2 linked regions of the Homo sapiens genome follow. The protein of the gene in region 1 purifies or fractionates together with the protein of each later gene. This does not show direct contact. Each region holds a gene or a part of one and is shown on either strand. Other genes may lie near its edges.

The links.
Region 2: the proteins of GRM1 (region 1) and HOMER1 purify together in Homo sapiens (affinity purification with western blotting, with the first as the bait; one study listed by BioGRID). This does not show direct contact.

Annotation. Positions count from the first base shown.
Region 1 is NC_000006.12:146,035,504-146,039,334, forward strand, and holds part of GRM1 (metabotropic glutamate receptor 1 isoform alpha precursor), read left to right. Parts: intron 1-3,831. UniProt on the Homo sapiens protein: G-protein coupled receptor for glutamate. Ligand binding causes a conformation change that triggers signaling via guanine nucleotide-binding proteins (G proteins) and modulates the activity of down-stream effectors.
Region 2 is NC_000005.10:79,391,962-79,395,792, reverse strand, and holds part of HOMER1 (homer protein homolog 1), read left to right. Parts: intron 1-3,831. UniProt on the Homo sapiens protein: Postsynaptic density scaffolding protein. Binds and cross-links cytoplasmic regions of GRM1, GRM5, ITPR1, DNM3, RYR1, RYR2, SHANK1 and SHANK3.

The sequences.
Region 1 (3,831 bases):
TACTTGAGAGTTGGTCTCTTTAAACACCAACATTTACATTTAAAACATTTTATGAGGTGATCTTTGCAAACACTACTGTAAGGTCCCCTAACTTCTTTTAAAGACAGTGCTCAATTTAATGGACATTTTCCTTGAATATACCAAGTTATCGTGAACATAAATTTTTACCTTGCGCTGGAATATGGTGGTAATCTTGGAGCCTGTTAAAAAAATATAAGGCCATTTATTATTACTCAAAATGGCCACAAATTGCCATACTTAAAAATTTTTATCTTTATTTTTTCTTTTATATCTTGGCTGGATTTATTAAACTCATTTTTAAAGTCATTAATCAGTATTTAGCAAACAGCTATTATGTGCATAGAATTAGAGTGAAATCCAAAGACGAAAAAAATGACACTTTCATTATTTTGAGTAAACTTGAACTCTTTGTGATTCCTTTGCCACACAATCACCCTGTGACTACGTTTATCTTGCTGCAAATTTTATAAGAAGCTGTCCTTCATAGGGTAGGTGGTGATGGCAGCTTCCATTTTATGTTTCTACCGTGTGGCTTGGCAGTAGCCATCCTTCTACAAGTATTAAAATTTTTGCCCTTATGATATAGGGAGCTAATATACAATAACTGCTTTGTGGATTTTCAGTAACTGGGCAGTGACTGGAGTGATGGGTTCACAAAGAGACTTATCAAAAGTCGTGTTTTCGGCATACACTTTTTTAAGAACACAGAGGGCTGGGGAACCACATCCAGAAAAGAATAGTTTGGTGAACACCTACAACCACTAAAAAAACTCATGGCACATGCTGTTCTGATATATGTTGGAAACAGCATGTCAGTAGGAGAAAGTTGTCAATTTTCAGAGAAGCTGTAGTTGAAAACCAGAGTCAAGACAAGGCATAAAGCCTTGTCAAAATGTCACTGTCTTATGCAACAGAGAGTTATCATTAGATTCTAAAATTATATAGAAATATTTGCTACTTTTTCCTGTTTAATTGTTCTCTATGAATGTCTACAACATTTAAAATCTTAACTTACATGAGAAATTATAATTTTAATTACCTTCTGTATTCCAGAAAGCTTTACTCTCTTAAACTTAAGGCATTGTAGTACCAAATAGAACATTAATGTTTTTATGAAGAGAATTGCTTCTCAGAAATCTCCAATTATCAATTTTAGGATTATCTATTTTATTTATTTCATAGCCAACAAATTAAATATTCAAGGCAATTATCTAAATATCCAGGTAAAAGCCTTAATTTGTAGTAGAAGCACAGGATTTTGATAGGCAGAAATTCTTTGATTACCTAGTAACTAATTTGCCTTCTAATAAAGACATTTATAAATAAACACGTGACTATTATGCATCACATATTTTTCTTGGTGCTAGTAACACATAAAGTAATAAAAATCAATAATAATAACTATTATTACTACTAATATTTGTTGGAAGAGACATGTAAATATATAGACAGTTATAGGCTCATGGGTTAAAAAGAAAATGTTTAATTACTGTTTTGAAAAATGCACAAAACATATGGGAAATACTGTATGCATGCACATCTCAGTTTCATTTGTAAAATGGGAATTATAATCACTACCATGTTATATTCCTCACAGCAGCTTTTCAAAGAACAAGAAGATGGTACCCATAAATACATTTCAGTTGTTTTTCTTAAACTGCCACCAAAGCGATGACTTCTTCTCAGCTGATGAATATTAAGCAAGTCCAAGAAGCCAGTTAATTGGATACAGATTTTCGACCCTAAACCTAGTAATATAAGATTAAAATGAAATTCATGATTAAGATAAAGGTGTAGCATCTACTATAGACTTTAGGAAACTTTCTTGTTACAAATGAGAAAACAAAAGCCCAGAAAAATAAAACAAAATGACTTGCTCAAGATCATAAAATTCATCAGCAGCAAAGCTAGGACTAATTTAGCTTTGTTTTAGATACTTTCTCAAGCCAAAGTTTTCTTTCTTTCTTTCTTTCCTTTTTAACCCTCATGCACGCCTCTCATGTGAGGTCCATACTATTTAGCTCAACTGTGTCTTTCCAACTTTGCTGCTGTCATTTAGCAGCTTCTAGGAGATTCCTCTTCTGAAAACTCACTCTGCTGTTAGTCTTCCTCTTAATGTCAGCTCTTACCTTAGTTTTGGATGACTCCAACATTCATGTGTTTGTCCCACCAATACCTATCCTCATAGCTCATTGATCTCAGCTCTGTGTTCCTTGCCTTCTCTTTAGCAACCCACTTACCCTGACCACAATCTGGTACCCTGGCCTTGCCAATAACTATTTTATTTATAAATTTTTAAACATGAGAAAGTCACTGAAAAATAGAAGCCTCTCCTTTTCTTCAACTTCTTTTGCTCCCACCTCACCTGCTCTCCACATTTCTCTGGAAGGTCTGAATAAAGCCATTTTCTCAGCTGATCTGGTTTCCCTTCTGCATCTGAGCAACTCTACCTCCATATTTGTGCTTGTTATCATCTTGTAATAAAAGTCCTTTCGCAGAGAAAATAAACTTTCAATGTAGAGTGACTGCTCCACATGAAGCTCTATTTCAGGAGATTATGAATTAACCATTTTTTTTTCTCCAGCTCCTTCAGGGCAGAAATGTAAAATAAGACCAGAATTAAACACCTTGTTAAAATGAAAGAAGAAAGGATGCCTTCTCTATGAGGGTTGTGGTTAACAGTGGGAGATGACACATGGTCAGACATCTCTGTGACACCATCTCTACCACAAGTAACTAGAAGTGGTATGGAGTGGATAAGGATGAGAAAATTAGAGAAGGGTGGCTAGAGTTGAAATCCAGAGATCTGGAATAGGATTGACTCAAGGGATTAATAGAATTAGGCATGCTTAGAGAGCTATCAGGGTGAAGTATACAGAAAACAGTCCCCTAAGTTTATTATACAGATAAGATGCAACAGTGCTCCATATAGGGCTAGGTAGATGTAATAGATGTAAGATGTCATTATTGTTGTCATGCTATTCTAACCTTAATTAGGAAGATGCCCTTAGCTTAGATGAGCCTGTGTGAAGTAAATACAGGGAAGTTCTGTGGTGGAGATGTGAAAATAAAGAGGGAAAATGCTGATTTACTAACACTGAGTGGCGCATATTCAACTTCTCATTCTCTCCCTTTATAAAAATTGCACTCACAGCATGTGGCCCTCAATGCAAATCTTTTGATTGGACAGCATATTCCACAGCTATTGTTAAACAATCAGAGACAGTTTCCTCTGTTCTCTGTGGTGCTATAACACATTTTATAATTTGTTTGTTATAAAAGGTAGAACAAAAAAATCAATAAACAAATTGCTGATAGTATGTTCAAGAGAAAAAAACTTTATGAAAGATTTTAAAAGGTTATATCAGGATATTGAAATAGTGGAAACAGCTTATAATAAAGAAATTCAATATCCTTTTTTTTCGATAAATAAATACATTATTTGTTATTTTCAGGTTTTGGTTAACAGGTACTACTCTACTGGCAGAGAAGAAGTCATGTCCAGATTCCTATCTCAATTTTTATGTTTTGTAGCACATTCTTTGGTTTGACCAATGCTATAGTCATTGAGGAGTAGAGATAGTGGAATTATAGTCTTCCTTTTAAGAAGTTCACCACATGGTGATTACTATTCAGTTTTGCTAAGTGCAACCATAGGAGTAGGCATGAGGTAGAGAGACAACAGAGAGAACTGTGATTAGCTCCCTCTGGTCCAGGGAAGCAGTGAGGGAAAGCTCATAGAAGGTCCCCAGAAAAGGTGACATCTGAAGTTCACTATATCCGAGGAAACAAAGGAGTAAATTCAGTAAA
Region 2 (3,831 bases), on another chromosome or scaffold:
TTGGAGAGGTTAACTTGTCCAACCTATATTTAAATGGAGACAGTCAAATTTTAAAATCCAAATCTTTGACCACTAAGATAATGGTCAAAATACATTATTTTAGTAGTCAAAGACATGGGCTTTAAACCCCTTCATAATAATCCTTCATGAAATAAACAGATTCCTTATATAAAATGGAATATTTACCTCTCCCCTTCCCATCACTGGCTTTCAGTAGTCTGGGAAAAATGAGATCACTTGTTTTGGTTGGCCCTATTAAATGCCGTTTGTATATTTTAGTCGTCTATATAGATTAGTGGTCATCAACTTGGGGCACTTTTGAAGCCCAGGGGACATTTAGCAATGTGTGCAAACATTTTTTATTTTCACAATTAGTGGAGCGCCACTGATATCTAGTAGACAAAGCCAGAGATGCTGCTAAGAATCAGATTATCCAACCCAAAATGTCAATAATGCCAAGGTTGAGAAATCCTGATGTAGAACTTAAATATGAAGCATGGAATCAGGGCTGGAAGAAAGGGGGAAATTCAGTCAAGTTTTGTCTTTCGTTTGTTTTGGGTTTCGGGTACTTGCGATGATTCAAGCATATGTTAAGCACTTAACTTACATTAGCTCTAATTCTCACAGTAGCAGGTGAGGTATCCCCATTTTCAAAGAGAAGACAGCAGTTCAAAGGTGTTAACAAGTTTAATTAAGGCACTTAGCTAGAAAGTAATGAGGCCTAGATTTATTTTATTCCAAAGTCCGTTCTTTCTGCATTACCACACTTCTTCAAGCAACAAACAGTCAAGTCATCCTTAATGATTCTTTTAAAAAGTATTTTCAGTTATATACACATTTACATTGTCTCACTTATGAAGAGAAACAAAGAGATGATATATTTATATCAAATTTCTAATGTTGATAATTCTAAATGTATTTGAAGCCAGGCATAGTTGCTTATGCCTATAATCCCAGTGCTTTGGGAGGTTGAGGCAGGAAGATCTCTTGAGGCCAGGAGTTCAAGGCCAACCTGGGCAACATAGCGAAATGCTGCATCTACAAAAAAATGAAACAGTAGAATTAGCTGGGAGTGGTGGTGTGCACCTGTAGTCCCAGCTGCTTGGATCACTTGAGCCTCGCTTGAGTTGGGAGTTGCAGTGAGCTATGATCACACCACTGCACTCCAGCCTGGGTGACAGAATGAGACCCTTTCTCAATAAATGTATGAATGAATGGATTTCATCATTGATAGAGCAGTAATTGAATTTTATAGCTGGCACTTGAAATTGTGAATATAATTCTTACCCATCCTTTCACTGAATATCAAAAATATTATCAAAACAACCTACCTAGAACAGGACAGGGAAGCTTTTAGAAAACCTGAGGATGAATTCTAAAAGAACAAGCTACAGAAAATAACATATTTTTTCCAATTCAAAGAAATTTCCTCCTCTGCAGCCTTCTCCCTCCCACAGAAACATCTCCTGTTTATCAAAGGTCCCAGCACCCTTGAACTCCATTCATAAGTTCAGTACAGAAAATTGGGATCATTAAATTCCTTGGAAAAGAATCCTGAAATTGCAGTATTTAGAGTTGGATTAGTATTTAGAGTTGAATGTGGATAGAAAATGTATAGTTATTGGTAAATTAAGGATACCGTGCTACAGTTTTTCTAATTTATGAGTTTTTGATATTTGGCAATATTTGGATATTTCTGTTATAAATGTCTATGAAAAACATGCCCATTGTAAAAAAAATTAGAAAAATTTCAAAAAATGTACTTAGCAAGGTTAGTATAAAATCATAATTCCATAATATTAAAAAAATCATAATCCTGTCATCTTAAGGCAAGGTAACTGGCATTTCCTTGTCCCAGTGTTGGTTTAGATAATATTTTCTTTATAAGAGATGGATATAGATACCATTTTTTGTTTGTATACATTTTTATCTAACTTTATGTCATAAGCCCAATGGCTGCATAGAATTCTCCCATATAGAGGTATCATAGTTTTCTTCCAGCATTCCTATAGTAATGGCAGTTTATGTTGTTTCCAGTGTTATGCTATAAATAAATAATATTACAACCTTTTTCATAAATCTTTGCCTTTCTGATTATTTCTTTAAGATAAACTTTCAAACAAGAATTGCTTGGTGTCAATGTTTTAAAATTTCTTATGCTGGGAAATTGACATCTGGAAAAGCAGGGTACCCACTGGATATTGGTACCCCCTGGACCCGTTCTTTGCCATCTCTTAAGAAATGAAGTGACTCAACTATTTAGTTAATTTTTAAATTATGAATAACATTGAACAATTTTTCACATGCATTTAGTCTTTACCTGTATCTTGAAGTCACGAGTGCATTTTCACCTTAGAGCATGTGGAATATCTTTGCCTGGAATTCTTTGCCCAAATCTTCAGATGGCTGGCTTCTATTTTTAGTTTAGGTCTTAGTTCAGATGTTAATTTCTCTGACTTCCCAATTTAAGGACTATGCTACAGTCCCCACACCCCATCCCAGGTATTTTTTGTAGTATTACCATTTTTTATTTTCCTTTTAGTACTTATCACTAGCTGAAATGATCTTGTTTTTTATTTCTATTTTGTTTTTAAGCTATTTATTTTTATTTCAATAGGTTTTTGGGAACAGGCAGTGTTTGGTTACATAAATAAGTTCTTTAGTTAAACTTTTTATTTTGAAATAATTTCAGTCTTACAGAAAAGTTGCAAGAATAATACAGAAATTTTTTATATACCCTTTACTTACATTCCCCAAATGTCATTTTGGCTATATTTGCTTTGTTTTATTCTGGATGGCTCTCTTCTCTCTCTCTCTCTCTCTCTCTCTCTCTCTCTCCCTTTCCCTTCTTTTCCCTCCCTCCCTCGTAAGACAGTGGTAAGTATTCATGTATTTGTATCTAAGCACATCTAAACACAGAAAAGGTAGAGTAAAAATACAGTAGAAACGATAGAAAAGGTACAGTAAAAATACAGTAGAAAAGGTAAAAATTGTACACTTGAATAGGACACTTATCATGAATGGAACTGTAGGACTGGAAGTTGCTCTGGGTGGGTCAGTGAGTGAGTGGTGAGTGAATTTGAAGACCTAAGATATTACCATACACTGCTGTAGACTTTATCAACACTGCACTTAGACTACACTACATTTATTTTTTAAAATGTTATTTCTTCAATAATAAATTAGCCTTAGCTTACTGTAACATTTTAACTTCATAAACATTTAAAATTTTTTTAACTTTTTACTTTTTTGTAATAGCTGCAAACATAAACATGTATTCAGCTGTAGAAAACTATTTTCTTTATATCCTTAGTCTGTAACCTTTCTTCCTATTAAAAAATGTTTTTAAAACTTTTTAAACTTCTTTTAAAAAACGAAGACACAAACACACATATTAGCTGATGCCTACACAAGGTTGGGATCATCAATATCACTGTTTTCTACCTCCACATCTTGTCCCACTAGAAGGTCTTCAAGGGCAATAACAGGCATGGAGCTGTCATCTCCTATGATAACAATGCCTTCTTCTGGAATACCCCCTGAAGGACCTGCCTGGGGCTGTCAGATAATTAATGTTTTTTTAAATAAGTAGAAGGAGTACACTCTAAAATAACTTGAATAGTAATAAATAGTATAGTATAATAAATATATAAACCAGTGACATGGCCATTTATTTTTATTAAGTATTATGTACTATACATAATTGTATGTGCTATGCATTTATACAGCTGACAGCACGGTAGATTTATTTATATCGGCATCACCACAAACACATGAGTACGGCATTGTGCTGTGATGATATGGCAGCTGCTGGGTGATAGGAGTTTTTCA